7 separate regions of the Homo sapiens genome follow, and all the other regions are reported to be linked to region 1. Evidence: microRNA targets listed by miRTarBase, many of them from high-throughput screens and not tested one by one. Region 1 holds a microRNA gene; each other region holds the end of a gene's coding sequence.
The links. The annotated mature microRNA hsa-miR-627-3p reads UCUUUUCUUUGAGACUCACU and lies in region 1 at 2,850-2,869, shown strand. An mRNA with a match to its seed (bases 2 to 7 or 8) in the 3' UTR can be bound and repressed. Matches are read on the target gene's strand: a 7mer-m8 pairs with bases 2 to 8, a 7mer-A1 pairs with bases 2 to 7 and ends in A, and an 8mer does both.

Region 1 (4,067 bases):
AAAGTTCTAAATATAGTATCTTTTACAAAACAAATATTGCAAAATGAATTCTTTTATTTTTTCATGTTCTGCTGCAGCATAAATCTCCAGCCTTCATTAGAGCTGCTGTTATTTCTGATTTCAACATTTTTTTTGTGTGTGACCTGCCTTTCCTTTAAGACCCCAAATCAAAGAAAATAGAATCACTCTGTTTTTCTGGATGACTAAGAACATCATCCTGGAGAAATACTATTGATCCTTTGGATAAGGAATGTAGGTGCTGACCTGTTTTTATAAATATAACTACTGCCATTCAGACAACCTTTGGCTGACACCCATTTTTTTTGACATGGGTGCCTTAGTAAGTACATCACAGCATGTGGTTGGGAATCAAGACAAATTGGGGTTGGGATCCCAACTCTGCTGCTTGCCACATGTGTGACTCTGGAAAAGTTATATATTCCCTAGGCCTCAACTTCCTCATCTATAAAATGGGGATTTGAAAAAAGGACTTACTTCAAGGGATAGTTGTGAGGATTAGTGAAATAACAGATGCGTTTAGCATTTCCTGGAACACAATACATGCTCAATAAAAGTTATCTATTTGTACCATTATCCAAGATTTTATTTTACAGAGGTCAAGAATCAAGAGAGTTTATGAAAGGAATGAGTGACCTTTATGTTATCAAAAAGCTAAGGAAGTATCTGTACATGCTTACCTTCCTTGAATGATGTAATATGGGTCTGTCAGGGTAATTATTTAAACTCTTTCTGAGCCTCTTTTTACCTAGACCAGTGCCTCCCAAAATGTGGTCCTTGAACCACCAGCATCAGCATCATCTGGGAAGTTGTTAGAAATGAAAATTCCTGGGCCTACTTTTAAACCTACTAAATCAGATGCTCCGGGGTAGAGCCTAGCATTCTGTATTTTAACAAACTCTCAAATAATTGTGATACACTAAAGTTTAAGAACCACTAGCCTAGACCATCTTTTAAAATGTACAATTTGGCTGGGCACAGTCGCTCACCCCTGTAATCCCAACACTTTGGGAAGCTGAAGGGGCATTGCTTGCGGTCAAGAGTTGGAGACCAGATTGGGCAATATTGTGAGCCCTCATCTCTATAAACATTTTTTAAAAAATAGCTGAACGTGGTGGTGCATGCCTGTATTTCTCGCCACTCAGGAGGCTGAGGTGGGAGGATCACTTGAGCTAGGGAGGTGGAGGCTGCAATGAGCCATGATCACACCACTGCTCTCTAGCCTGGGCAACAGAGTAGAACCCTATCTTAAAAAAATAAAAGTTAAAAAAAAGTGTACAATTAAATGGTTTTTAGTACATTCACAGAGTTATGCAACTATCAGCACAATAAATTTTAGAACATATTCATCACTTTCAGAAGAAACTCAGTACCCATTAGTATTTACTTTCTATTTTCCCCCAAGCCCACCAGCCCTGGGCAACCGCTAATCTTTCTACCTCTGTGGATTTGCCTACTCTGGACATTTCATATAAATGGAATCACGTGGCCTTTTGTCTGGCTTCCTTCAGTTAGCATCATGTTTTTAGGTTCATCTGTGTTGTAGCATATATCCATACTTCCTTTCTTTTCATTGTTAGCTAATATTCCGTTATATAGACATGCCACATTTTGTTTATCCGTTCATCAGTTGGTGGACATTTGGTTTGTTTCCATCTTTTAGCTATTACAGATAATACTGCTGTGAACATTTGTGTACAAGTTTTTGTGTAGAATATGTTTTCATTTCTGTTGGGTGTGTAACCAGGAGTGGAATTGCTGGGTCCCAGGGTAACTCTGTTTAGCCTTTTGAGGAGCTGCTAGACTTTTCCAAAGTGGCTCTCCCATTTTACATTCCTGCCAGCAGTGTATGAGGATTCTAATTTCTTTATATTCTCATCAACACTTGTTATTAAATATTTTCTACTAGACTATCTTTTGAGATAATGAATTCTGTAAGCTTATTATGTTACGTCATTTATTTTCCTGAAAGTAAAAGCATTTAAAGGATGCCTCTTAGCTATTATTGCTGAGGTTGGATACCTGGTTTCACATTTGTACTTCCATTTTGTGATTTTATAAACTTTCATCATATTCTTTTTAGCAGAATTTAAAAATATATATCTGAAGATATATATCTTAATAAAAGTATATATAACAAAAAATAAAAATCATAATAATTTAATCTTAAAAATACAAAGCCCTTCTATCTTTTTTATTAGTTTAACATTAAAACAATTGAGCCAGGACATTTTTATCCTCTGATATGTCTAGCCTAGTAATTATTCAATAAATGTGTTTTTAAATGGTTGATTTTCAAACATGAGTATAAACATTTCTTAGCTTTGCAAAACACCTCCTATCAAAAGCAACTCATTTTCTTGACACATTGATTTCTGATTACAAGCCCCAGCTAAAAAAATAGGGTTATACTCAAGCTGATTGACCTTTCTCAAAGCTGGTTTTTTTTTGTTTTTGTTTTTGTTTTGTTTTGTTTTTCCAGAGGAATGGCTTCTTGTGGGAACCAAACAAGGACATCTTCTTCTCTATAGGATTCGGAAGGACGTTGGTAAGTGCACATTGCTCATGCAAAAAAATAAGTTTTAATAGTCAGCTAGTATACAACTGTGAAATCAGTTATTCCTGGACCATTAAAAGAGAGATTGAAGGTTAGAGGGAGCACGGTGGGAAAATGGGGAGAAGACTTGAGAATGCCTAGGGTTTTTCTCCTCCAAATTGTATTGCCCTACCTGCATTTGGGAGGTGAGGATGAATTGCTGGTTTACTTATTACTGAATTACTTATTACTGGTAGTGAGTCTCTAAGAAAAGAGGAGGTGGTTGTTTTCCTCCTCTTTTCTTTGAGACTCACTACCAATAATAAGAAATACTACTAATGGGCATAAGCTTCCTGTATATATGGTGTGGTGGTAGGAAAAAAAATTAGGCAACATCGATTTAAAATATCTTGTTGGCTTATGAGGGGTAGAACAAGAAGAGAGGACCAGGGTTTGCCTTCATGTGCACTTCCCCCTGGCTGCGTGACCGTGAGCAAGTTCTTTCCAACATCAGTTTTCTATAAACTCTCTGCCCCACAAAGTTGTTGGGGTGGATGCAATAATAGGCTCGAAGAAACTGTGAAAACTAAAGTTCTAATCAAATGTGACTGTCAGTAATGTAGAGTAATAACTAAAGTATTTGAAATGTATTCTGTTAAAGAGTGTTTTTTATTGGGGCAGAAAGTACCTCACTGCCCTTCCTTGTTTTCGTTTCTGTGCTCTCTTTATGGAGAATAGATGTGTTTAGGTATTATGCCCTGGAGCCACTCTACAGAAATCTGCAGTTAATTTCATACCCTTCAATATAATATATATTTCTCTGGTAAATAGCTTAAGAGATAGCTTAAGATAAATAGAGCTCTCTTGTGGAACCTGGAGCAAGGGTAACACTGGGGGAAAAAGCACCTTACTAGTGCACTCGGGAAAGAGAAGATATCCTGGTCAGTTTCTGCAGCAGGGTAAGAAAAGAAACCAGAGAACAAAATAGATAATTTATTTCATTTCTAAGTTTTTCAACTGTCCTCTAAATCAGGGTCAGCAAACTTGTTCTGAAAAGGTCCAAAGAATAAATATTTTAGGCTTTGCAGTGTTGTTACTACTTAACTCTGCCTTTGTAACATGAAAGCAGCTGTAGGCAATATGTAATGAATAGGTATGGCTATGTTCCAATAAAACTTTATTTACAAAAACATGCAAAGGCCTCAGTTAGGCCCTGGAGCAGTACATTGTTGATCTTTGTTTTAATGTTTTAAATTTTTAATTCTCATGGCCTGTGAAGTGGCTCATGCCTATAATCCCAGCACTTTGGGAGACTGAAGTAGGAGGAATGATTGAGGCCAGGAGTTCGAGGCCAGCCTGGGCAACATGGCAACACCCTGTCTACAAAAAATTAGCTGGATGTGGTGGCACGTGCTTATAATTCCAGCTGCTCTGGAGGCTGAGGTGAGAGGATCGCTTGAGCCCAGGAGGTTGAGGCTGCAGTGAGCTATGATCACACCATTGCTCTCCAGCC
Region 2 (4,067 bases), not on the chromosome of region 1:
CTGCCAAAACGCGGCCCTGCCCAGGACACACAGCAGAGGTCTGGAGTGGGGACAGTGCGGCCAGCATGTGTGGGGAAGGAAGCAGGCTGACGGAGGCAAAGCAGATTCCGAAGAACAAAAGCAGCTTTAGTTTGCCTGGGCAACAGGCTCAACTTCTGTCTCCACTTCAGTTATCAGGAGACCAGAAGCCGATTCTAGGGACCAGAAGAGAATGTAGGGTCACATCACCAAGATTTAATTTCATACCAACCCCGCAACATGAATGTGACCTCTGGACACCGGGAGAGTAACACTCAAGGTTATGACATATGAGTCAATAACCCATTTCTTCAAAGAAAAACTTGCCCACCTGTACCAGAGGTATATGCTATGAAACAACACACAATTATAAAGCATATGCATGACCAAAACAATGCTTAGATGTCCTTTAAAAATATTTTCAATGTTCTCTCACTAGGTAGCCTAAGAAAATCTTCTCAGGGAAGGAAATGGAAACATCCAAATGCACAGAAGGCACTCGGCTCCAGACTGAAAGCTGGCCTGCTCATGGGTTCCTTTTTTTTTTTTTTTTTTTTTTTTTTTGAGACAGTCCCACTTTGTCGCCCAGGCTGTAGTGCAGTGGCATTCTCGGCTCACTGCAACCTCCACCTCCCAGGTTCAAGCGAGTCTCCTGCCTCAGCCTCCCGAGTAGCTGGGATTACAGGCACGTGCTATCATGCCCGGCTAATTTTTGTATTTTGAGTAGAGACGGGGTTTCGCCATGTTGGCCAGGCTGGTCTCAAACTCCCGACCTCATGCGATGCGCCCATCTCAGCCTCACAGTGCTGGGATTACAGGCGTGAGCCACTGCGCCTGGCCACGGTCACGGATTTTTTAAAACTCTAAGGTCATTAGCTTGACATCTATAAAATCTCCTCCATGACATGAAGCCTTAAACCTAGGGACAGAAACACACTGAGACACAGAAACACCTTCTGTGCTTCAATACACAGAGCATTCTCTGGAAATCCCTACGACACAGGCTTAAAGGCCAGTGCTGTGCCTGAAAGACATTTTGAACAGGCAAGGAGTGTAAGCTAATACACTACTGTTACAACATGGACAAATACTTGTAAGATGTTAAATGAACAAAGGACCAGAATACAAAACTGAATACGCAGCATGAGGACAACCAAAGTTAAACCCACACACTCACACACCCCGTCTACAGAGAGACTAGAAAGGAACACGCCAATGCCAAGAGTGGTTATGTTACAGAAGGTTGGGACTCGGGGTGATTTTGTTGTTTTGACTTTCATTTTTCCAAATCTTTAATGAGCATGTGCCACTCTTTCATAATGAAACAAGCAAACAATAAGTACTTACTACTTACTGAATGAATAGTTGCCACTTAAACAATTATCCTAAAATTATACCAAGGAAACTAGGTTTGGGCCCAGCAAATGACTCAAATGTAATATTCACTCGAGGTAAGGACAGTGGGGTGGTGTGGGCTGGCACAGCAGAAAATTTCTAGACCAGGGGAATCCACGGTCCTGAATTGAGTCTTGGCTCTGTGTGACCCTGGGTATTGTTTTTTGCAGCCTGACACATGAATGCTTGGACTAGAATAATGATTCTTAATCCTTAGTGGGTTATTGACCCCTTTGTCTGTGTCTGAGGGTTCTGGGAACCCTCTCTCCAGGAAAAAAAATACACACACACACACACACACACACACATGCTCACAGAGCTTTTAGAAGTAACTCTAGGAGGTACATGGACTCTCTGGAGGTCCACGGACCAGGTTAAGAACACTGGTCAGAGGCTGGGAGTAGTGGCTCACGGCTGTAATCCCAGCACTTTGGGAGGCCAAGGTGGGCGGATCACCCGAGATCATGAGTTCGAGATTAGCCTGGCCAACATGGTGAAATCCCATCTCTACCAAAAACACAAAATTAGCCAGGCGTGGTGGCGCGTGCCTGTAATCCCAGCTACTTGGGAGGCTGAGGCAGGAGAATCGCTTGAACCCGGGAGGCGGGGGTTGCAGTGAGCTAAGATCGCACCACGGCACTCCAGCCTAGACAACAAGAGTAAAACTCCACCTCATAACAAACAATCAATCAAAAAGCCACTGGTCAGTATGCTGCCTTCTCCAGCTCCAGCTCCACAGCCAAGTTAAGGCACAGCAGTTCCGCTTCCTGTGTCTCTGCCGAGGGCCTGATCTAGCTGCTGCCAAGACATGCCAAGGTCACCAGCTTCCCGTCCTGACCAACAGCCACCTCTCAGAAGGCTGGCTTAACTACTCAGCCCCAGTCTTCTTAGCAGATGGCAAGGAGCTCTGGCCAAGATTTTAGTCTAAACAGAACCCTAGGCTGCTGATGCAACATCAAGCACAGCAAAAGGTCACCCCTTTCCGGGGGGACGGCTACTGAACCCTGGCATTCCAATTAGAAACGTGTTTCAAGGACACAGTTACTCCGGCCTCAGAACTCTCCAATGTGAGTAGGTAAGTACAGGGGGGATTACAAGTGAAGCCACAAAAAAACAGTATTTGATCAGCAACAAAATATCTGAGACTTTCTTAAGCTACCTACGGCACATACTATTTTGTTCTATTTCTCATTTCTATCATCAGCCGCTCACTCAGCTAACCCCAGGATTCAAATAGGACCGCTGGTTTTTAATTTGTGAATATTCTTATTTAAAAACAAAACAAGCTCTACTTCAGATGTCCAAACAAAAATCACACAGTAGTAAAACTGCTACAAAATGGTACTGTCAACAGGCTGGAGGTGGGGGTATGGGTGCCTTCTGTGTGCCTCAGTCACACCGGGGAGTTTTGCTTACCTAATTCTGCTTCTGAAATAAGCAACATCAAAACAGCCAGGTGTCAGGAATGTGCCATTTACCGGGTGGTCCCCAGACTCTGCTGCTCCTTCCCAGCATTACTAAGGTTTCTCTCCCAGATTCCCCACCACCCACCATACAGCTCCCTTTGTGGGATTGATGCAAGGTAGGCCCCATCTTGAAGAGTGACCTAGAACAGGGTACCAGGGCCTCCAGCTGGAGGCAGAGAGAGCCACCCCTCCTCAAGAAACACCCTTGGGTGACAGAGACAGCATGATATTCTAGGCAGTGCTGCCCAGCCCAGACTCCACAAACAACCCTTCTGACCTTGCAGAGGCAGTCCAGAGCTGAGGGGCCAGCTTGAGCCAGCTTGCAATCCCTCGGGAGTTTACTGAGGGCTTTCTGTTGTTACTGATGACCACAATTCCTCCTTGTAAATGACCACACTACGACTCCCTGTAACTCAAAAAGCGGGAAGGAGGCGGGGGGAGGTGGGGGACAGATTCATAGGTTTTTGTTTTCGAAGATAATTCCACATCGTGCTACTAATGGGCCGCTGGTAGGATTCCTCTTGCCACCCCACAGGCCACTCCAAAGCAAGTTACTATCAACACGTTTCCAACTGTGCAGGAGGTTTCTAGTTAACTGCAACAAGCCTGAAAATTTGGTTACGTATGTAGGTGCAAAGCTGGTTCATCAGATCCCTGTTCTGGCCCTCAACCCAGTGCATCTCCACTAAGGCATCGTCCACCTCCTTCTTAACGTTTATCAAACACTTAAACAGGTACTGTCCGGCCACTCCTGGGAGACGTTTCCCCCTTTCAGCCACTGGGCTGCCGAACTGCTCAGAAGCCTCTTGGTCCTGGGCTCCGTTGCTAGAGCCTTGACAACTTTCCAAAACCTCCACCCCTCCCTTTTCCTCACTCCTTTCATCCTCCGTGGGTTCCGGGTTTTCCTCCTGGGACAGGGACTCCTGGCTCGGGCACGGGCCCTCCACAGCGGCAGCCTCGCCTTCCCGCAGAGCAGGCCCACAGGGGGTCCTCTCCTGGGGGCCCCTGGCCAGTTCTTGGCTATTGCCAGACTCTTTGGGGGTGGGCTTTTTCTCTTCCAAGGCCTGAATGACGTCCTCAGGAGCTCGGGGAACTTCTCTCAGCTGTCTCACACGCTCTCTTTTCTTTCTCCTTAAATGAATCCAGGAGTTTTCTATGGCCGTTAGGAAAAGGCTGACTTCCTCTTTT
Region 3 (4,067 bases), not on the chromosome of region 1:
ACTTGGGAGGCTGAGGCAGGAGAATCCCTTGAACCCGGGAGGCGGAGGTTGCAGTGAGACGAGGTTGCACCACTGCACGCCTGCCTGGGTGAGAGCGAGACTCCATCTCAAAAAAAAAAAAGAAAAAAAAAAAAAAGAAAAGAAAAGAAACAGCTGGGCCAGGCGTGGTGGCTCATGCCTGTAGTCCCAGAACTTTGGGAGGCTGAGTTGAGTGGATCACTTGAGCCCAGGAGTTTGAGACTAGCCTGGGCAACACAGGGAGATCCCTGTCTCTACAAAAAATAAAAACATTAGCCAGGCGTGGTGGTGCGCCCCTGTAGTCCTAGCAACTCAGGAGGCTGAGTTGGGAGGATTGCTTGAGCCCAGGAGGTTGAGGTTGCAGTGAGCTATAATGTGCCACTGCACTCTGGCCTGGGCAACACAGTGATGCCTTGTCTCAAAAACAAAAAAATTAAAAAAAACCCAACAAAACAGCTGGACTACGTTAGGCAACACGGTGAAACTCCGTCTGCACAAAAAGTGCAAGAATTGGCCAGGCATGGTGGTGCATGCCTGTAGTTCCAGCTATTTGGGAGGCTGAGGCAGAAGGATCATTTGAGTCTGGGATGTGGAGGTTGCAGTGAGCCGAGATTGTGCCATTGCACTCCAGTTTGGGTAACAGGGAGACTCTGTCTCAAACACAAAAAACAAAAAAGCAACTGGACATTTGGTGTGTGTTATTACTGTGCTGATTGATTAGGCTGAGTCCAGACTAGAAAGATCCTAGTACTGAAGAAATGACTTTATCCAGTAGTCAACGGCAGTGAGTGTGCTCATGTGCAGCCTAGCATGTTTATGATGTTGTTTCAGAAAGATCCCCTTGGAAACAGGATGAGGTTGTCTTGGAAGATAAATGGGGGATAAGAAGGAGGAAAAAATAGCAAGCTCATCAGTCCACAGTTAGGAAAAGTTTTTTCCATTTAATACTAGACTTTCAAGGATTGAGATGCAAGCTTTGTATGCAATTACATCCAATGTTAAAATTGGTAATACATAATTTACAAAGATTAACATCAAAACAATCATCTATTTAGATATGCTTTTGTAAAAAGGAAATATATTAGCAGCATTTATATTTTCCGCAATCACACAGCCTACAGACATGCAGACTAACTCTGTATCTATTTGCAGTGATGTAGTGCTTTGCCCCGCATTTCAAACACCAAAACCCGCCTGGCAGCTGGGGGGTTCTTTTTATTTCGTTATTATAAAATAACTGAAAAATAAAAAAAGGCATTAATTTCTACACCAGTAAGAAAAAACAAGTTTTTGCACTTACCTAACATTTGATTGTCTAAAAAACATTTCAGTTTTTTTTTAGTCTTTCAACAAAAGAAAGATAAAATGACAGAGCGTAGTGTCTTTTGCTTCTGTTCTCGCATTTTACAAAGTTTTTTTTTCTTTTTCATCTTTTTTAAAATTTTAGTGTTTAACACTATAAAGGAAACATTGAATTTTAATCTCTTTCTTGTCATTTTCTCGCTTTTGACTAAAAGGAGACCCCCAAAGTGCCCCTAGTCCCACCTCCCTCCCACCCACTCCCTGCAATGAAAAACAAAAGAAACCACTCAAACGGGCTTGGACATGCGATTTTTCCAGCTCCACATGTGAGTATCTTATACCCAGGTCTCTTAGTAATGTACAGTGCTTCTCTACAGTAAGAAAATACTCCAAACTATTTTCTTAATTCTCTTTTTTCTTTAATAAAATATTTATTTTGCTTTTTCTCTGCTCAAGGGGATCATTGGCATCCCCTCTCTCTTTTGTTTTTTCCTCAAGAATGACACAGAAAGGGGAAAAAGGAAAAAATATTTAATGGAATGGAAGGTGGTCAATGTGTCTACCTAAACGAGTCAGAGCATCGTCACCATAAGGGGAAATGTACAATTAGGACAGCATTGGTCCAATATTAGAAAAAAGTAATGGGGACATGTTTACTATTGTATTGCTTACCAATCACACAGCAGGTGTGTGTGTGTGTGTGTATATATATACACACACACATATATATATACACACACATACACACATATATATACACACACACACACAACTTGGCACATTTAAAAACCATCTTTTCTCTTATAAGAACATCTAAAACATATATGCATATGTATGTCTGAAAAGACAACAAAGCTTTTTAAATTTTATTTTTAAAGAGACAGTATAGTCTGTTAACTTCTGGTCAAGAGAGTAGGAAGGAAGGAGACACCCTGGATATACCTCCTGATGTCATTCAGGAGGGTGAGGGAAGATGGGCTAGGGGTGAAGAGAAATATACTGTCTCTTTAAGAAAGGGACATTGAAAACTGTACAATTAAGAAAACAAGAGTAGTGTTTTCAATTGATAATCTATACTCACAACAAATACTCTGATAGGTGAATACTGCTGAACAGTTTATGTAGTGACTTTTGTTGCAGGGGTGGGTTTAGAGTTCTTTTTATGTAGGTTTTTAAATGATTTTATTTTGAACTGAATCTCCATTTGCACAGCACAGCAGACACACAAGAACTACAGCGCATTAAAAACAGCATGTGTGCTGGCGGGGGCCTGGCTTTCTCATTAGAAAAAAATATGTTTGACAGGTTATGAAGGGTAAAACAAAAATAATTGCAAGAACTACCGTGCCCTTCTGACCCCATGGGGGCCTTCCCTATCCCATGATTCCATTTTGGGGAGTAGAGGTAGGGAGGGGGCAGCAGTTACAAGTGCTTTGAGCTGTCAACTCACATTTTACTTTGACCTGGTTGGGCAAGAAAGGAGAGACAAACTTCCCTAGTCAGGTATCTAGGAAGAAGCCTCAGCTACTGTTTCTGTTTAAGGTCTCTGGGGTAGCTCTTGGAGCCAACAGAGAATAGATGGGGTAGGAATAGGGATCCTGGCCCTATCCCTTTGGATTTTGAGTTATACCTGGGTATAGGAAGCAGCTTCTTCGCAATGCCTGTGGGATCTGAGGATGACAGAAAAACCTAAGCTGTGGGGTGGGGCAAATGCTATAAAGTACCAGTAGGTTCTGGTCATCAATGTGGTCCTCCCTCCTCTCTACATTATTAACCCTTAAGGTGAAGCAATGGAGAAGAAAATTAATTAACCTGAACTGTCTTGGACAGAACCCTTTCCTCTCCCTCTCCACTAGCTCCAAGGCTTATTAAGTACCTAATGTCAACAACATGGCCCCATTCCCCTTGCCCAGATGGACCCTTCCCACCCCTGTCTATACCCAGAGAGCAGGAGGCAGGACTGATTAGCTCCACTGGATCCCAGATGCTTGAGGTTCTCATTCTTTGAGGGTCACTTTCGAAAGCTGTTTTCTGGGATAAACAAAGTACGCCTTCGCAGTTTCCTGCCTGATCCTTCCTCCAGCAAGTAGGTCACATCAATGGCTGAAAACAGAACCAAGGAGGCTCATCAAAATACCAATCTCCTACTCCTTATTCCAGATTTGAGCTCTAAGGAGAGCACACGAACTCAATGATTCCTTTTCTGACCTATAAGCAATTTAGCCCATCCTCCAACCCTACGTGAAAAAGGTGGTTCTTTAGAGGAGATCATCTCACCTTCCAGTTTCACTACCAAGATACAACTAAAAGCAAGCCTATAAAAGAACTATACCATTTTCTTAGAATACTTTGGATGCTGAACCAGTAATTACAATTTTTTTCCATTCCCTCTCATTTCGCATTTATCTTAAACCCTAGATATGAACCTGATTCTTCTTACCATTTTTTCCAGGGATTTTTTCAAGGAGATTGAGCAAGATCTGGTTGAGTCGTTCCCGTTGGTTATGCCGTCGTTCCTCAGGGGTACAGGTTGACTGGGGTTCTTGACTACTTTCCTCTGTTTTTTTTTCACCCTCACTGACGTTAGCAGTGGCCCCTTCCCGTTCTGGCTCCTCCAGGCTGGGTATCTCATTGGCTGCTTGCTCTTGACTGGCTAGAACCTCTTCAATCAAGGGTAGAGCATCATCCTCCTGGCCCAAGTCTTTTAGGGGTGGCTTTGAGCGCTCAGACTTCCAGGATGATCTGCC
Region 4 (4,067 bases), not on the chromosome of region 1:
ATGAAACTTGGAGACATGTAAACTTGCCCACCTAGGGGGTTTCAATTATTTTTTCAGGTCATCCATTGAATTTCAAATGCTTGTCTTGAAAACACTTTTATCTTTGTATTTTAAACAAAATCAGTCAGGAAAAGTTGGAGAGCAGGGAAAGGATATAGCTGTCAGTGCTGTTCAGCATCTGTAGGGCTCCTGACAAGGTCTGCATGCATAGATCCTGACAAGGTCTGCATGCGTAGATCCTGGGAGTTCTAATGTCTCTCTCATTTCACATTTGTAAACACGACATCGGCTTGTATTTTGTCCTATCAAGTAGAATTTTCAAGTGAATGTTCAGTTTTTACTGATTGACAAGGCTGCAGAAATGCTTGGGCAGCTCAGGGATAAATGTATTATTAGCACTGTGTTAGTTATCAAGTTGGAGCTGTGGGGGTGTTGTGTTTGTATTCATTCCATTTTGTGTTCTTTCCCTTCAGATTAAAACACGTAAAGGTCTCATTTCAATATTTGAGCAAGGTAAGACAGACACTTCAGTGGATTTGTCCAGCCACCCTGCTTTGGGGAGGGGGTGGGACTTTTCTAATCGGCTGCCCTCGGTAGCGGACCCTGCATCAGTGCTCCTCGCCCTCCTGGGCCTTCCCCTCCCCGGGGGCCCTGCCCACACTCCTGCCCCTGCATGTCTGCGCTGCCCGGGGAAGCCCAGCCTTGCCTTTCTTCTGCCCGTGCACTCGGGGAGGAATCCGACACCAACACCTGCCATCCCGGAAAATGTCTTTGTCGCCTGCCCTTTTGTGTGTGGGGCTGCAGGGAGCCAGCGGGCGCTGGGGCCGCCCCCTTTTTTGTTGCCCAGGCCTGAAGGAGCAGGGTCTTGAGATGGGCCGATAAGACACGGCACGTGCTGGGCCGGCCTTTGACCGCCAGCCTTAATGGAGGCCTCTGAGACCTCCATGCGGGGAGGGCAGGTTGTGGCGGGGGCTGCTGAATGGAACAGCTGGGGAAGGAAAAGCGGACAAAAGCTGCGGGAGCGCAGAGGGTGGAGACCTAGGAATGGGCTGCGGTCTAGGACCCAGAGGATAGGCTGGCCATGGCAGGTGTGACCTCCCCAGCCTGCCTTTCTGTCCTGGGTCTGGGGTCCAGGCCCTGCCCAGAGCGCTCTGATGGATGGCAGCCGCCTTGGCAAGGCTGTCTGAAAACCCTGTCCCGTGTGGCCTGGGCTGCACCACCTCCCAGGCTCACAGGCGGAAGGCGAGCAGTTGGTAATGACAAGGATCACGGCAATGCCATTCACAGGAGAAAGCAAGTGAGCGAGCTGCCGTTCCTGAGCCTGTCGCCCACAGTGGAATGCAAGGCACAGACACCAGTCACTTTGTCTCAGTAAATATGGAAGTGGGATGTTAGGGTCCAGATTTGTTGGTTTATCCAAACCTTCACCCTCCTCTGCTAGGCAGGGCTGTTGGACCTGCAGGCCAGAGGAGCAGCCAGCATCACAGCCAGCCGACCCTCCAGCCAGCTGCCCTTTCTCTTCCCCTCACCCAAGGCTTAAGCCCAGTCCTGATATTGTCCCAAACTGGGCTCACTCGTGTCAGCCCCAACAGGTGACACGAGCCTCAGAGCCCAGGTGCTCATGTCAAGATGGGGCAGAGAAGGGTTGTACAGTCCCCTCCCAGCAGGGCACCTTGCTGCAAAACTTCGCATTTGCCGAGACCCCCGTCTCCATGCATGTCCTCCTGCTCCTGCCGCCAAAGTGGGGAGGTGAGGTTCGAGTGTCCTGTGAATAAATCCTTGGCTTCCATCACCGGGAGGAGGCAGTGCGAGTGGAGCAAAGCTGCGAGTGGACGTGTCATATCAGGAAGGCGGCCGTACCTTGTGTCCCGCCTACCTGTCCTGCAGCTGCCACCTCCCCACCACGGGGTGCTGTGGCACGAGGGCCCAGTGCAGATGAGAATGTCCCAGCAGAAAGCTGGGGACCAGAGGCCTGTGTAGGGCACTGTGGCACTGGCTGCAGCCCAGCTGCAGGGGTGGCTTTGCCCTTTGCCCCTGGCCATGGGATCCCTGCTTTCAGGTGCACAGGCCCCCTTCTCTGCAGAGCTTCCTGCTGTTCTCCAGGCTCACTCAGCGGGACAAAGCTGGCATTCCTCTGTCCATCTGCAGGAACTCGAGGTGCACCCCTCTTTCCCTCTTTATCCTCCCTGGGTGAGTGGGTGGGGCAGAGGAACTAAAATGTTTTCCTTCGAATCCAGAATTAGCAAAGGTTCGCTCTTTCTCTTTGGATCTCACTTTATATCTTTCATTTACTTGCCTTTTTTTTTTTTTTTTTTTTTGCTTATTTATTAGAATCAATCTGATTACCATAGTGGGCTGGGCTGTTGGAATATTGTCTGGGATTAAATCAAGTCTGTTCTCCCATGCTGCCCCACACCCTGGATTAAATGCCAGTGCCCACCACCAGCTGCGAGGGGATGGAGAGATGCCTTGTAACAATCTAGCTTCTCTTGTGGATGATGGTCTAGCTGTGCTGCCTTTGTCAGAAGCAGCCTGTTTTTGTGTTCTGAGGTTTTTCATGTGTGGTGTTTTTTTTTTGAGACTGGGTCTCACTTTGTCACCTAAGCTGGAGTGCAGTGAAGCCATCACTGCAGCCTTGACCTCCCAGGCTCAAAATCCTCTCACCTCAGCCTCCCAAGTAGCTGGGACTACAGGTGCGCACCACCATGCCTGGATAAGTTTTGCAATGTTTTTGTAGAGACGGGGTTTCACTGTGTTTCCCAGGCTGGTCTGGAACTCCTGGGCTGAAGCGATCCGCCCACCGCGCCCGGCTGCAGCCTGTTTTAAAGATGAGAATAGTGAGCCTTCTCTGTATGCCCGACCTGACTGAGCCTAGAAGAAGGGAGGCAACCATGAAGCCCCTGGACTCTGAAAGTACTGAATTTCAGGACACCCTGAGCCAGGCTGCCTCCATAGGTCCAAGCACGTTTGCAAGTATTGATTTTGGAAACTCCTCCTAGAAACAATAAGGGAAGGTCAGAGAATGAAAAAAGATGCGTCTGTGAATAAAATAACTGACTTAAATTAATTTCAAATGCCAATAATAATAATAATTTCAAAGGCCAAAGCCCTGCAAGTGAATCACGCAGGGAGGAAGATGTGGAAACTCTGCTTCTGAGGTTGGTTCCCAGCAGAGGTCATGCAGGAAACTTGGGGCATAATACAACAGGGTTTAAAAATACACTACGAGGGGAAGGGTGATGAAATGATCCTCTCGCTCGCAGAACGGTGCTAGGGGAGACCCAGCTCCACCCGCAACAGTGGCTTGGTGTTGCAGCAGGCATTCTTGTATTCCTCTGAGCACACCGACAGCAGCCCTGGGGAAGCGGGGGGTGCAGATGTGCAGGTTTTAATTTTATTCCTTTTCCCTCCAGTGATGAACAGCTGTATGCTCATCTGGACTCATTCAGACAAGCAATTTAGGACTGACCTCTAGTCTTAGACCCTTTGGGGAATAATCGAGTTGTAACTCATTGTGTAGAATATCGATATGTAAACACGTGGAGATTCCAGGAACACCGCCAGGGATCTGCAGAGCGGCCTCTGAAGTTTCACGGGCTTTTCCATTGACTCCAGCCACTGCTTCTTCAGTGGCTCTTCCTCCCTTTCACTGTGACCAGATGCCTTTTCTCTTCATTCTTTACTTATGAATTGGACAGTAAGTCTGAATTAATTTCACAAGATTCATAGCTTCTTTTATGCTGCAGAAAAGCCCAGGGCAAAGAATAAGAAGAAAGACATTCATGTGTTTATTCATTCAACAAACATCTTTGCCGGCATAGCGTGGGAGGAGGTCACCAGACCCTTCTCCTGGGAGTTTCCCTCCCTTCTGAGTGCCACAGATCCTCCCTGAAATGTGTGGCCGTAGAGCCGCCGTTGCCTCCATGACTTAGCAGTTCTCTGCTTCCTTTGCAGGGGCCCTGGCCTCCAGTCTGAGTGCTGACCTCGAAGAGCCCCTGAGTGAGGAGGAGACAGAACACCCTCTCCTGCCTCTGCCCCGAGCCACTAAACCCAGAATCTCCAGGAAA
Region 5 (4,067 bases), not on the chromosome of region 1:
GTTATACATAGGACTTGCATTATAGTTCTATTGCATAGTGCTACTCTAGATACAACTACCAATATACAGAGGGTCATGTTAAAAGCCATGAAAGCAATCTGCAAAATCAGTGACGAACTCACAGGGCAAACTTGATTTTTTCAACAAATTGTGCACAGAAAGAAATAAGAAAAAAACGAAAAAAAAAAAAAGGCAAAGAAGAAAATGTAAACTGAGACTTGAGAGGTCTACTTCAATGGCAGTCTGAGATCCATGGACCTGCTCCTCAGAACAACTGTAATCAGTAAAAGTTACTTTAAAAAACCTAGCCATTTAAAGTCTCCAGAAATTGGCTGGGTGCAGTGGCTTGAGGCCTGTAATCCCAGCACTTTGGGAGGCCCAGGTGGGCGGATCACTTGAGGTCAAGAGTTTGACACTAGCCTTGCCAACATGGTGAAACCCCATCTCTACTAAAAATACATAATTAGCCAGGTGTGGTGGCTGGTGCCTGTAGTCCCAGATACTCAGGACGCTGAGGCAGAAGAATCGCTTGAACCTGGGAGGCGGAGGTGGCAGTGGGCCGAGATTGCACCACTGTATTCCAGCCTGGGCAACAGAGGGAGACTCTGTCTCAAAAATAAATTAAAAAAGTCTTCAGAAATTGTTTTAAGGGTATACAGCAAATGAAGAAACATTTATTCAAGAAATTCTAATAAATCTTGGTGGCAAGAACAGTGACACTCAAGTTACAAAGCTCTCCTTCCTCAACTCAGCCAGCATGATAGGAACTCCATTCTGGGCAGCCGTGGCCAAAAAGACAGAGCTTCCTCTCCCCTCAGCTGTGAGCATTTCTCATTGCCTCCAACTCTCTGTTGCAGAGGCTAAATTCCAGGCCAGAGGTTGGAATCTCTCTTCCTTCACCAAGACCCTACTCACAGAGTGGAGCCTCTACTCCAAGGATGGTAGGCTAAGAATACTGGAGCTCTGGTCGCCACTGCCCCAGCTTGCTTGTAGGCTACTGCCTCTGCTCAATTTGTAAAGCAGGGGTGTCACTCTTGAGAGAACTGGGCCTTTGTGCCTACTCATGGTTCTGGAGCAGTGGCTCAGAGATCTTGCCCAGGGGCAAGAGGCAGTCCATAAGAATACAGTTCTGACATAAGCCTCAAAAACAATGGGGATTTGGGTGGTAAGCAATTAAGAGGAGACTGGTAGCTCCATTAGAACAACAAGCTAAACCATAAACTAGCTAGTTTACCAGAAACAAAGAAAACAAGGAAAGAGACAGCTAAAATGGGTCCTCCTGGGATCAGAACAAACCTCAAAGGCTGGCCTCAAAAACTAACGCTGCATTTTGATGGCAGTGAAAATACTCGTGTAATACTATACTGATGGATACATATTATTATATGTTGCATAAACCCACAGAATTACACCAAGACTGAACACTAATTCAAATTAGACTTTGGGTGATTATGATGGGTTGAGGTAGGTTCTTCAAGTGTAACAAATGTACCACTCTGGTGCACCAGAGATGTTGATAATGGGGTAGGCTATTGCATGCGTTGGGGGAGAGGGTATATGGGAAATCTCCGTACTTTCAATTTTCTTGACCTAAAACTACCCTTAAAAAAATAGACTTAAAACAACAAAAGCACCCCTGAAAGGGATCTCAATTTTTTTTTAATTTCCACCTTCCATCCCACCACCAGTAGAAAGGGACTCAATTTAACGGATGACTGTGGAGCAATTTATGTGCCATAATGTAAATAATGTAAAATGCTGCAGCTGATATGTAAAATCTGGTGGTTCTTCAAAAGGTTAAACATAGTTACCAAATAACCCAGTAATTCCCCTCATAGGTATACTAACAAAAGTGAAAATAAAAAGGAATGAAGTACTGATATATCTACAACATGGATGCTGAATGAAAGCAGCCACTTACAAAAGATCACATATTGTATGAGTCCATTTACATGAAATGTCCAGAATAGGCAAATTTACAGAGATAGGATGAGTTGTTGCATTGTTGGTGAGGTGAAGGAGGCTGAGGGAAATGGCTAGTTTTGGGGTGATGAAAATGTTCTAAAATTGATTGTGGTGATGGTGTCCAAGACTGAACGTATTAAAACCCACTAAATTTTCCTCTTTAAATGCATGAATTGTATGGTTTGTGAGTTACATCTCAAATCTCAATGTAGCTTATTTTTAAAAAATGTAGCCAAGGTCGGAGGATCACTTGAGGCCAAAGAGTTTGAGACTAGCCTGGGTAACATAGCAAGACATCTCTACAAAAAATTTAAAAAATAGCCAGGTGTGGTGGTGAGTGCCTGTAGTCCCAGCCACTTACGAGTCCGAGGTGGGGGTTGGGGACTTGAAAAAAAAAAAGTTAAGATTTTACATAAATAGTGATTCAAAAACACTTTAAGTCTGTTTAGGATGCTACAGACCGGGTGGTTTATAAACAGAAACTTATGTCTCAGTTCCAGAAGTCGGAAAGTCTAACAAAAAGGCACCAGATTTGCTGTTTGGTGAGGCCCCACTTCATAGTTCACAGATGGTTTTCTTCTTGCTGTATCCCCACGTGTTAGAAGGGGCAAAGAAGCTCTCCAGTGTCTCTTTTGTAACAGCATTTATCCTATTCACAAAGGCTCCAGTCTCATGACCTAATCATCTCCCAAAGGCCCCATCTCCAAATACCACATTGAGGATTAGATTCCAACATTTGAATTTTAGGGGGGCACAACAAACATTTGGTCTACAGCACAAACTAAAAAGCCATTTGCAGCAATTTTTGTGAACATTCATTGAGATGTGCTCTTACAAACGCTTTGTTTTTGTGCTAACTTCTAAATATAAATTTTACAAAAGTGCATTAGGGAAGTGGAAAACTCAAAATGCTAGGTGGTTAAGATGTAGCAGCTTCACTGCTTTAACTAAAACAGGGGATCTGGATCGTTTTCTACTAGCAACTGGACTTTGGGTCAGATCATCTGAATTCAGAATTTTAGGCAGCCCATATTATTATATAATATCCTCAGTGAGGTTTGTGGAACACCACATAATCAACTCGTCTCTAAATTTCTCTGAGAGAAATAAATACACTAAGAGGAATAAATCAGGACTAAAGAAACCTCACTCCAGCTCAGGTCACATTTGGCCACCAAATGAATTTGTGTTAAAACAATTATGTCAACAAAGCCTTTTAACTTTCAAATCTTTTCGTATCTCCAAACTGCAGCTTAGGGGACATATGCTGTACAGTTCAAGTCTCAGTTCTGCTGTATCACCTGTGAAGAAAATACCTACTTGTTTTATAAGGCTGATGTGTGACTCAAAATAAAAAAATGAGATGATGTGGTATATCAATGATCCAGTAACTGTAAAGCATGATGCAAATACATGTTCATATTATCAGTTTTTTAAAAAAGCAAAGTTTGTTAATATTTATTATCTTATTTTTAGAACAGAAATAACATTAAAATAGATGTTTTTAGAATATCAACATACAATCAAAAACACAAAGTCCAAGGATCCTCCCCATCTCCAAGGCTTAAAGGGCAGCTATCCAGCTGTAGTCTATTTTCCTAAATTTTCTCAGTTCTTTTTCTTCAGATTTTGACAACTGATGTATAATGTCTTCTCCTAAACCTGTGTTACTTGTATCCTGGACTTTTTCGGTAAAATCATTTTCTTCATCTGAATCTTCACTTTCTTTTTCTTCTTCCATATCTACATCTTCAGGAATTTCCTTAGCACTTTAACAATAACAGAATAAAATATAAACACTATTAAATGTTTCTAAACAGTAACTTTCTAATTTGACACCTATGTAGAAATATAATCACACAAAGTAAATGAAGAATTTTGTTACTAAGTACACTTTAAAAATTATGGGTTATTTATAAAAGAGCAGGTGAATTTACAAACATGTAATTTTAAATTATGTACCAAGCCCTTAAAACACACACATACAAGATCTTTTTTGAAACTTATTTTCAATGTATGTTACTTGACTTAATAATCCTATAGCCTTTAAATCTATTTTAAAACTTATGAAATAAAAAGAAATACAGTGGAAGAATACTCTA
Region 6 (4,067 bases), not on the chromosome of region 1:
AATTGAGGAGTGCAATGTACCATTCAAATATGACTCTAACCATGCTAGCAAACTTTGTACCCCTCACTCTGACCCTGATATCTTTTCTGCTGTTAATCTGTTCTCTGTGTAAACATCTCAAGAAGATGCAGCTCCATGGCAAAGGATCTCAAGATCCCAGCACCAAGGTCCACATAAAAGCTTTGCAAACTGTGACCTCCTTTCTTCTGTTATGTGCCATTTACTTTCTGTCCATGATCATATCAGTTTGTAATTTTGGGAGGCTGGAAAAGCAACCTGTCTTCATGTTCTGCCAAGCTATTATATTCAGCTATCCTTCAACCCACCCATTCATCCTGATTTTGGGAAACAAGAAGCTAAAGCAGATTTTTCTTTCAGTTTTGCGGCATGTGAGGTACTGGGTGAAAGACAGAAGCCTTCGTCTCCATAGATTCACAAGAGGGGCATTGTGTGTCTTCTAGCAGAAAACAAACTGGTGGTGTATGAAACATTTTATATTTCTTACTGGGTTTTCTGTAATATATGTATATGAATAATTTCCACATGTATACCTAGAAAAGTCTTTTACCTAAAGTTAGTCTAGAAAAGTACATATATATAGATGTGTGTGTGTGTGTGTGTGTGTATGAAAAACTGAAGAACATTGACAATAACATGCTTTTTATTGTTTTTTCACAAAAACTGCCAAATTATAGAAAATATGACAAAAATTCCTCAATTATGAAGCCATGTTTATTTCATACATGTATTTTATATTTCATTTGTAGAATTTATATCTATTTATAATTATTAAGAACTAACAGCTTATCTCAGGAAAAATATTGCTCTTTTCTATTGTTATTTGAATGACACAAATATACCACAGTGTGCTTACAATCTGTTGTTTTAACCTATAACTTTTTGATAATAAGGTCGTTCAATTCTTAATCACTAATGAGGATGTATCTTCAGGGTTTTATTCCATTATGAATTCCTATTTTATGTTTAGTAAAAAGCAATCAGAATTATTGTTACAAAACAATGAACACAATAAAATTTGAGTGAGAAGTATACGTATAGTAAATTTCATGTATGTGTACCATAAACAGTACTGAGGAATATTAGATTTAATACAAGTATGTGAATAGCTTAGAAAAAAATCTCTGCTATAAGAGGGATGAAAAATCATGATCATGATCTTGATTGCTATTATCAGCTTCCATATGCAGTTAGAACAGTCATTTCTTCCAGCTTTTCAATTAAAGAAAAACTTTTTTTGAAATTGAGCTCAGATGTAAATTATTTTAGTATTTTTTCTAAAGCACTTCTAAGCCCCTGAATTGCTAATTATATCCTTATCTTCCATTTTTAAAATTCTTTCTAAACTTCAGATAAGAGAACTCCAGTCTTCCGTTTTCTAAAAAAAAATCTGTCAATGTGAAAATAGTATAAAAATTATGGAAAATAATTCAGTGAAACTTTTTTTAAGTGTTAAAATAGTATCTATGAAATCTATGTATTAATTATGGGATTTGTCCTAGTGTAATTTTGTTGTCAATGATTAAATGGAATTGTCTTGACATATTCATTAATGGGAAGTTCTATTATAAGAAGGAAATGTACAGTCTTGTTTACAGCTAAATTCTACATGACTGTATTAATTCTTGGTGTTATGAAATTTTAACAATGTTGTTCAGACCTTAAGATAAATCATCCCCACACCTGATTCATGTATTTTTTAGAATCATGTATCTTCCTCAGTACAATGTAAGAACCATAAAAGAAGAGATCGTGTCTGTCAGGCTTTCTGTTGACTCCCAGGACCTAGAACCCAGCACAAGGAATAGATGGTCAAAAATGATATTTTAATGAACAAATAAATGGGTGGATAAAATGGGTAAGCTGATGTGGTAAACCAATGAAAGGGAAACTCATCACAAAATCTGCAGTTGCATGAGTTCCCCTGTTCTGGTCTCAGGTTAAGATTACAGGCTTATCCAAGCAGAATCCTTCCTCAGAGGAAAAGTTTGGCTATTCCACAATTTTAGGGGAAATATCACAATAATATAGTCTTGATGCAGCTGTATCAGGTGTCTGAATTGGCGACAAGGTAGAACATCAAAATTAGATGCCACTATTACAATATTTTAAAAAAGCATATAAAAGACTTTGGTCTATTTGCGTATGTATTTTTTTCTATTGTGAATTATATATTTGTATTATGATATTTTCTAGTTGATTATCATATAAAAATGGCATTTCATTTCAAAAAATTGAGTTAGTAACCAGCTACTTTACTAAAATGTTTTTAACGTAATACCTGATATTAAAGTGATGACATTTATATGGAAGGCCAATTCAAGACAAAAATGGCAGGGACATGTGGAAATTGAGACAAGAACCGATGTGAAACAATGTGTGGTGATGTCTGGTATGACTGCTGGCAGCCACTTCACAGTGAGGTGAGAGAGACAGCATGGTGGTCATCAGATGCATGCACTTGACTCCCAGAACTTTTCCAGAAGGGCTACAAAGGGAAACCACAGCTGGCATTAGTCCATGGAAGAGAGAGAGAGGAGGGAGAATGTATCTGCTCAGCTGTCGTTAGTCTTCTGTTTCCCCTTGGCCAGGGTTTCCCTGAGTTAGAACTACCATCTCTGTTGTTCTGTCTTACATCATCCAGTCCCTTGGTGGTGGTCATGAAAGTCAGACCTCATGCCCACAGTGTGGTGATGCATTCAAGTCCCAAATGGAAGGATGATCTGGATCAGGCAAGGTGCTGACCAGGGGAACAGGAGATAGTGAAGGGAATCTGAGAAAGCACATGTTTGTGTCCAATACCACCACTCCTTGTGCCACTGAGACGTGCTCATACCCTCCAGTCATGGCTGGCTTTATGAGCATATGACTTGCACAGTTGTACAGGGTTTTGTGCTTATAGGGGCTTGTGCTTAGAGTGACTCTATGCTTGGATTAATGTTCTGCACTTGCTGTTTGGCTTTTCAGACAGAGTATACTTCAGCATTCCCTCTGCTGAAGAGGGAATGGTCTTACACTGGTCTTACACTGATTCCATAGGGATTTGCTCTCCCCTCTCCTACAGGCTTGTCAGAGACATGCACAGAGTCCTATAATGCCCACTATGCATGCCTCTAGCAGCTTTGAATTCCGCTGGATCATCTGGCACAGTGGCCAGAGCAGCCTGGACCAGAGCCTATATCTTCTGTAGAGCCCTCTTTAGTTCTGGGCTCCATTTGAGACCAGTAGCCTTTAGAAACATCGTTCGTGAGTCAGAGCAATATTCTCAAATGTGGAATATGTTGTCTCCAAAATCCCAGTAGGCCCCCAAAACATAGTGTCTCTTTTGTAGTGATAGGAAATATATAGAGAGAGCAAAATGCCGTTTACTGTAAAAAAGATTGTCTCAGCATGTGGACTAGGGACACTAAAAACCTTAAAACATCACCTATGTTGTCGGTCCCTGAATCTTCTCTGATTTATCTATTTTCTTCTGGTATTTTACTTCTGCTCAATGTTATAATATTTTACTATACTGAAGAAACTTGCCATTTCCTGATTATTGTACCAACTAATATATTATTATTGGTATTATTTTGAGACACGGTCTCTTTCTGTCCCTGAGGCTGGAATGCAGTGGCAGGATCACAGCTCATTGCAGCCTCAACCTTCTGGGCACAAGTGATTCTCCCACTTCGGCATTGCTGGCAGCTGGGACTGCAGGGGCACAACACCATGCCTGGCTAATTTTGGTATTTTTTGTAGGGCTGGGATGTCACCGTGTTACCCAGGCTGGTCTCAAACTCCTGGGCTCAAGTGATCTGCCTGTGTCGGCCTCCTAAAGTGTTGGGATTACAGTCATATGCCACAGGGCCCGGTCTGTAATATTATCAATACATTAAACTGGCAGGATGTTTTAAAAAATGTAAATTAAACTGAGAACAGAAGTGACATAGCCCTGACATACAACAGTGAAGCAGTGCTATTATTCTTACAAGGCAAATTGTTTTGATTTTCCCTCATAATGGGTGTAGATTAAGAACCATTCACCAAATCACTAGCCCCACAAA
Region 7 (4,067 bases), not on the chromosome of region 1:
GCGAGTGTGGCAAGAGCTTCAGCAGGAATGCCAATCTGGCGGTGCACCGGCGTGCCCACACTGGCGAGAAGCCATATGGGTGCCAGGTGTGCGGGAAGCGGTTCAGCAAAGGGGAGCGGCTGGTCCGACACCAGAGAATCCATACAGGGGAGAAGCCCTACCACTGTCCTGCCTGCGGGCGAAGCTTCAACCAGAGGTCCATCCTCAACCGGCACCAGAAGACCCAGCACCGCCAGGAGCCGCTGGTGCAGTGAGCATAGCAGGTGGCAGGCAGCACCATCATTCATCTTTCTCACTGCAGGGCCTTGCGGGGTGCAAGGTGATGGCTGCAGGAAAGCACTGGTCCCATCGCCTTCCCACCCATTCGCCAACGCGGGAAAGGCAAGGCCTGGCTTACTTAGAGCTTCCAGAGAGCATAGCTGCTTCCATCTCTTACCCAAGTGGTGCTAAACAATTTTTCTTCCAATGTTTGAGGGAAGCAGTCTCCTGCGGTTCAGTTCAGGCTGAGATTTTCTCCTTCAGTGGACTGTCTGTGTCCCCCTGCCGAACAAAGCTGGGAGTAAAGGCAAAACCTTGACACGTGTTGGTAGCTGGGACCTCATCTTCCTGAGGGCTCTGTCTTGCCTGCAGGGTCATAGCTCAGACTCTTCCCCCACCCCCTCTCTTTTCCATTGAACAAACATTTATTGAACATCCTCTGAGCACCTGGCCGTGGGAATGCCGTGGTGAATGAGAGACTAGACGTGATGCCTCTGGGGGTTGTGCGTTGGGGATGCATGCGACAGCCCATGACCCGAGGCATTCTCAGGGTATCTGTGCTGTGTGCCCGTGAGAACATCTTCCCATGACCACTCCTGCCCTCCTGCCCCGTGCTGGATCTTCCCTCCCCAGCTGGGATCTGCTCCCAGGCAACTGTGTGAATTTTACATTATTTGGAGCCTCATCTGTGTCAGGCTATAACATTCTATCCTCATCTGTAAAACTTCCCCGTCCATTATTCCTTGCACTATAACAACTGTCAACACACCAACTATTAGGAAGTTAGTATTTTGCTATTGATCACTGAATAAACATCAGAGTATTTTAAAAAACAGTTCTCTAGAAAGAACTGTTATAATTAAAATGAGTCTGAAAGATGAACTCTAGTATTAATGCCCTATATTTGATGGCACTTTATAGTTCATAAAATTAATTTCACCCCATTCTCATTGGACCCATTTCCCAAGTATTTATTGAGGCCCTGTAACAAACATGTCAGGAACTCTTCTGGGTGCTTGAGACACATCCATGAATAAAATAGGGGGAGAAGCTGTTGACCTCGTAGAGCTTATGTCTCGTGGATGTACCTGATCTTCAGAACCCGTGGATATTCCTGCAAATCCTCTGGGCCTGTATTCATTGCTTTGTCAGCATCTTGCCCTGAAATGCATTTGTCACCTACCTCTTGTTACTAAATGGTCTCTGCCCTCCAGACCCTTGTCATCCAAGGCACTAGGGGTCCTGGACACCCACTGGGGATGATGAGCTGGTAGCGACCTGTTTTGCATGAGTGCCAAGTCAGGAAAAATAAAGATATTTGTAGGCATTAAAAAAAAATACATTTCTTTAAAAATGAGAAGATGCAATATTTGTAAACTGTTGAAGCTTCCTTATTGTGCCATCACTTAAGGGTTTCATTTCTGTTTAAAGTTCTGGAAGCTGCATAACTAGCGTGGACTGACTGCTGTGTCATTGTGCTGTGCCTTTGAACCCTGGCTGAGTGAGTGAGTTTGTCCTTTGTTGATAGTGTCCTATAATTGCAAAATGTGGTTTGTCTTCTGATGCCTCTTAATACCAGATTCTTTTACTGAGATTTTTTTTTTTCATTTTCCATTGTAAATAAGGTAAATGGTAATGACTAACACAAAGCTGTATTACTCAGCCCACTTTGAAACGTGGTTTTATCACCTGTTCTTGTTAGGCAGCATGGTGTCTAATTTTGGCTTAGCAAATGACGCTCCTTGGTCTTCCTGGCTCATTAGCTGTGCCCACGAGGCTGCACTGACTGGGTCGTAAATGTATCTGAGATGTCCACACGGGGCTGCTGCTGCTCCTCTGTAATACTGAGGTCCACATGCAAAATCAGCTTTTTTTCCCCCGTAATTATCAGAGCAGCTAGGCAGGGCTGACAGCCAGGCAGACTCAGTGGGAGGCTTCTGGCCTGAGTGTGGCCTTCCCCAGAGGGTGGTTTTCCAAAGGCAGGTGGGGACTGGGGAGGCCTCGGGGGGCTGCTTGTCATTACCTGAATCACAGATGCTCTTTTGTCATACACAGCCAGCATTCCTCTGGGTTTCAGCAAGTTGGCATATCTTAAGCTTCAGAAGGAGCTGGGCCTTGCTGACTTTCCTATCTGGCCTCTTCCCTATCTCCTGTGGGGCCAAGAGCTTAGGACAGTGTCTCAGAAAAGCCTCTAAGTAGGGGGTTTTTCCCATGGGATTGTGGTAGTCTGATTTTTCATATCTATTCAAATGTTAAGAAATATTTTGTTTTCTGTATTTTTCTATTCTTTAGAAATTTTTTTATAATAGATAATTTCAAACCTATATAAATAAATCCTTATGTATTTATCATTTGACTTTATTATAAACTCATAATCAATCTTGTTTCATCTCTGTCCACTCCTTCCTCCCCGTCTTCCTCCCCCACTGAAGTTTCGAAGTGTATCCCAAGTGTTGTTTATAACCATTTCAGTGTGTACCTGTAAAAGGTAAGGGCGGCTGGGTGTGGTGGCTTACACCTGTGATCCCACCACTTTGGGAGGCCAAGGTGGGATTGCTTGAGAGGAGTTCGAGACCAGCCTGAGCAACATAGTGAGACCTCATCTACAAACAAATATTAACTGGGCATGGGTGGTGCATGCCTGTGGTCCCAGCTATTCAGGAGGCTGAGGCTGGGCATCACTTGACCCCAAGAGGTTGAGGTTGCAGTGAGCCCTGATTGTGCCATTGCACTCCAGCCTGGGAGACAGAGCAAGACCCTGTCTCAAAACAAAACAGTTCCTTAATGTCAAAATATCCAGTGAATTTTAAGAACCCACCTAATTTTTCAATATAATATAATTTGTTGCTTTGTCTCTTAAGGCTTATAATCTGTAGTACTTATCCTTTTCTTCTTGAGATTTATTCATTTTAAAAAACTCGATCATTTATCCTGGAGAGTTTTTTACATTCTGCATTTTCTGTTGTTTTTTTTTTTTTTGAGCTGGAGTCTCGCTCTGTTGCCCAGGCTGGAGTGCAGTGGCACAGTCTCAGCTCACCGCAACCTCCCTGTCCCGGGTTCAAGCGATTCTCCTGCCTCAGCCTCCCAAGTAGCTGGGATTACAGGCATGTGCCACCATGCCCAGCTAATCATTCTGCATTTTCTGTTTGCATACCCATGGCGTGATTTAACATATTTCCCTGCCTTCTGTATTATCTAAAAATGTAGAAGTGTTTAGTGGTGTAATCAGATTCATATTTCACATTTTGGCAAGAACACATTATAGATTGTGACATGCCCTGTTTCTCTTCATATGATTTTAGAAGCCTAGATCTGCTTCTTTCGTTAGTTCTGTAAATGCTTCATCATTTAGTAGTTGGAATATTGTAAGAAATTTCCCTTCATTAACTTAGGTTACCCTTAGATATAGTTCATACAGGGAAGGCAAGAAAATGCTTGATCCTCCTCTTTATTTGCCTGTTTTCAGAATAATGAGCTAGTTACTTTTTGCTTCCTGTAAAGGCAGTCAAGTCTGTAGAAATCAATGCATTCATAGCTTTTTGCTTTTATTGGTTTTTTTGAGACAGAGTCTTGCTCTGTCACCCAGGCTGGAATGCAGTGGTGCAATTGTAGTTCACTGCAGCCTCAAACTGCCAGGCTAAGGTGCTACCCCTTCCTTGGCCTTGCAAAGTATTGAGATTACAGGTGTGGGCCACTGCACCTGGCCTGCACTCATGGATTTAAACATACTTGGTATTGATCAGTCTGCTGGAGTTATAATTTGATGCTCAAATTATTTCACCTTTGACCAGTGGAGGCCCCTGGACCTT

Region 2: miRTarBase lists METTL16 as a target of hsa-miR-627-3p. The part of its 3' UTR that is shown has no 7-base or 8-base seed match.
Region 3: miRTarBase lists ASH1L as a target of hsa-miR-627-3p. Seed matches in the 3' UTR shown: 8mer at 2,113-2,120.
Region 4: miRTarBase lists RALGAPA2 as a target of hsa-miR-627-3p. The part of its 3' UTR that is shown has no 7-base or 8-base seed match.
Region 5: the mRNA of WDR75 is a reported target of hsa-miR-627-3p. The part of its 3' UTR that is shown has no 7-base or 8-base seed match.
Region 6: the mRNA of TAS2R30 is a reported target of hsa-miR-627-3p. Seed matches in the 3' UTR shown: 7mer-m8 at 554-560 and 7mer-m8 at 582-588.
Region 7: the mRNA of ZSCAN25 is a reported target of hsa-miR-627-3p. Seed matches in the 3' UTR shown: 7mer-m8 at 2,440-2,446.

What each region holds. Positions count from the first base shown.
Region 1 is chr15:42,198,395-42,202,461 of GRCh38, reverse strand. It overlaps MIR627 (microRNA 627), which reads left to right and starts at 2,796; the gene lies at 2,796-2,892. VPS39 (VPS39 subunit of HOPS complex) reads left to right here. Exons shown (of 25, transcript NM_015289.5): 2 at 2,501-2,566.
Region 2 is chr17:2,416,504-2,420,570 of GRCh38, forward strand. It overlaps METTL16 (methyltransferase 16, RNA N6-adenosine), which reads right to left. Exons shown (of 10, transcript NM_024086.4): 10 at 1-4,067. The coding sequence ends at 3,467. Among named protein-coding and RNA genes, the nearest start is that of MNT, 17 kb to the left of the region's middle.
Region 3 is chr1:155,334,329-155,338,395 of GRCh38, forward strand. It overlaps ASH1L (ASH1 like histone lysine methyltransferase), which reads right to left. Exons shown (of 28, transcript NM_018489.3): 27 at 3,761-4,062; 28 at 940-3,423. The coding sequence ends at 3,332. Among named protein-coding and RNA genes, the nearest start is that of MIR555, 10 kb to the right of the region's middle.
Region 4 is chr20:20,393,141-20,397,207 of GRCh38, reverse strand. It overlaps RALGAPA2 (Ral GTPase activating protein catalytic subunit alpha 2), which reads left to right. Exons shown (of 40, transcript NM_020343.4): 39 at 474-513; 40 at 3,955-4,067. The coding sequence ends at 478. Among named protein-coding and RNA genes, the nearest start is that of INSM1, 27 kb to the right of the region's middle. RefSeq lists a silencer at 669-963 and enhancers at 1,336-1,879, 1,880-2,424, 3,219-4,067.
Region 5 is chr2:189,474,880-189,478,946 of GRCh38, reverse strand. It overlaps WDR75 (WD repeat domain 75), which reads right to left. Exons shown (of 21, transcript NM_032168.3): 21 at 3,395-3,734. The coding sequence ends at 3,530. Among named protein-coding and RNA genes, the nearest start is that of WDR75, 35 kb to the right of the region's middle.
Region 6 is chr12:11,129,679-11,133,745 of GRCh38, reverse strand. It overlaps TAS2R30 (taste 2 receptor member 30), which reads left to right. Exons shown (of 1, transcript NM_001097643.2): 1 at 1-788. The coding sequence ends at 461. The region is part of intron 1 of PRH1-TAS2R14 (PRH1-TAS2R14 readthrough); the gene reads left to right. All of the region lies in intron 1 of PRH1-PRR4 (PRH1-PRR4 readthrough), which reads left to right. It also overlaps a transcript of PRH1 not described here. Among named protein-coding and RNA genes, the nearest start is that of TAS2R30, 2.9 kb to the left of the region's middle.
Region 7 is chr7:99,629,767-99,633,833 of GRCh38, forward strand. ZSCAN25 (zinc finger and SCAN domain containing 25) reads left to right here. Exons shown (of 8, transcript NM_145115.3): 8 at 1-2,642. The coding sequence ends at 254. Among named protein-coding and RNA genes, the nearest start is that of ZSCAN25, 15 kb to the left of the region's middle. RefSeq lists an enhancer at 71-717.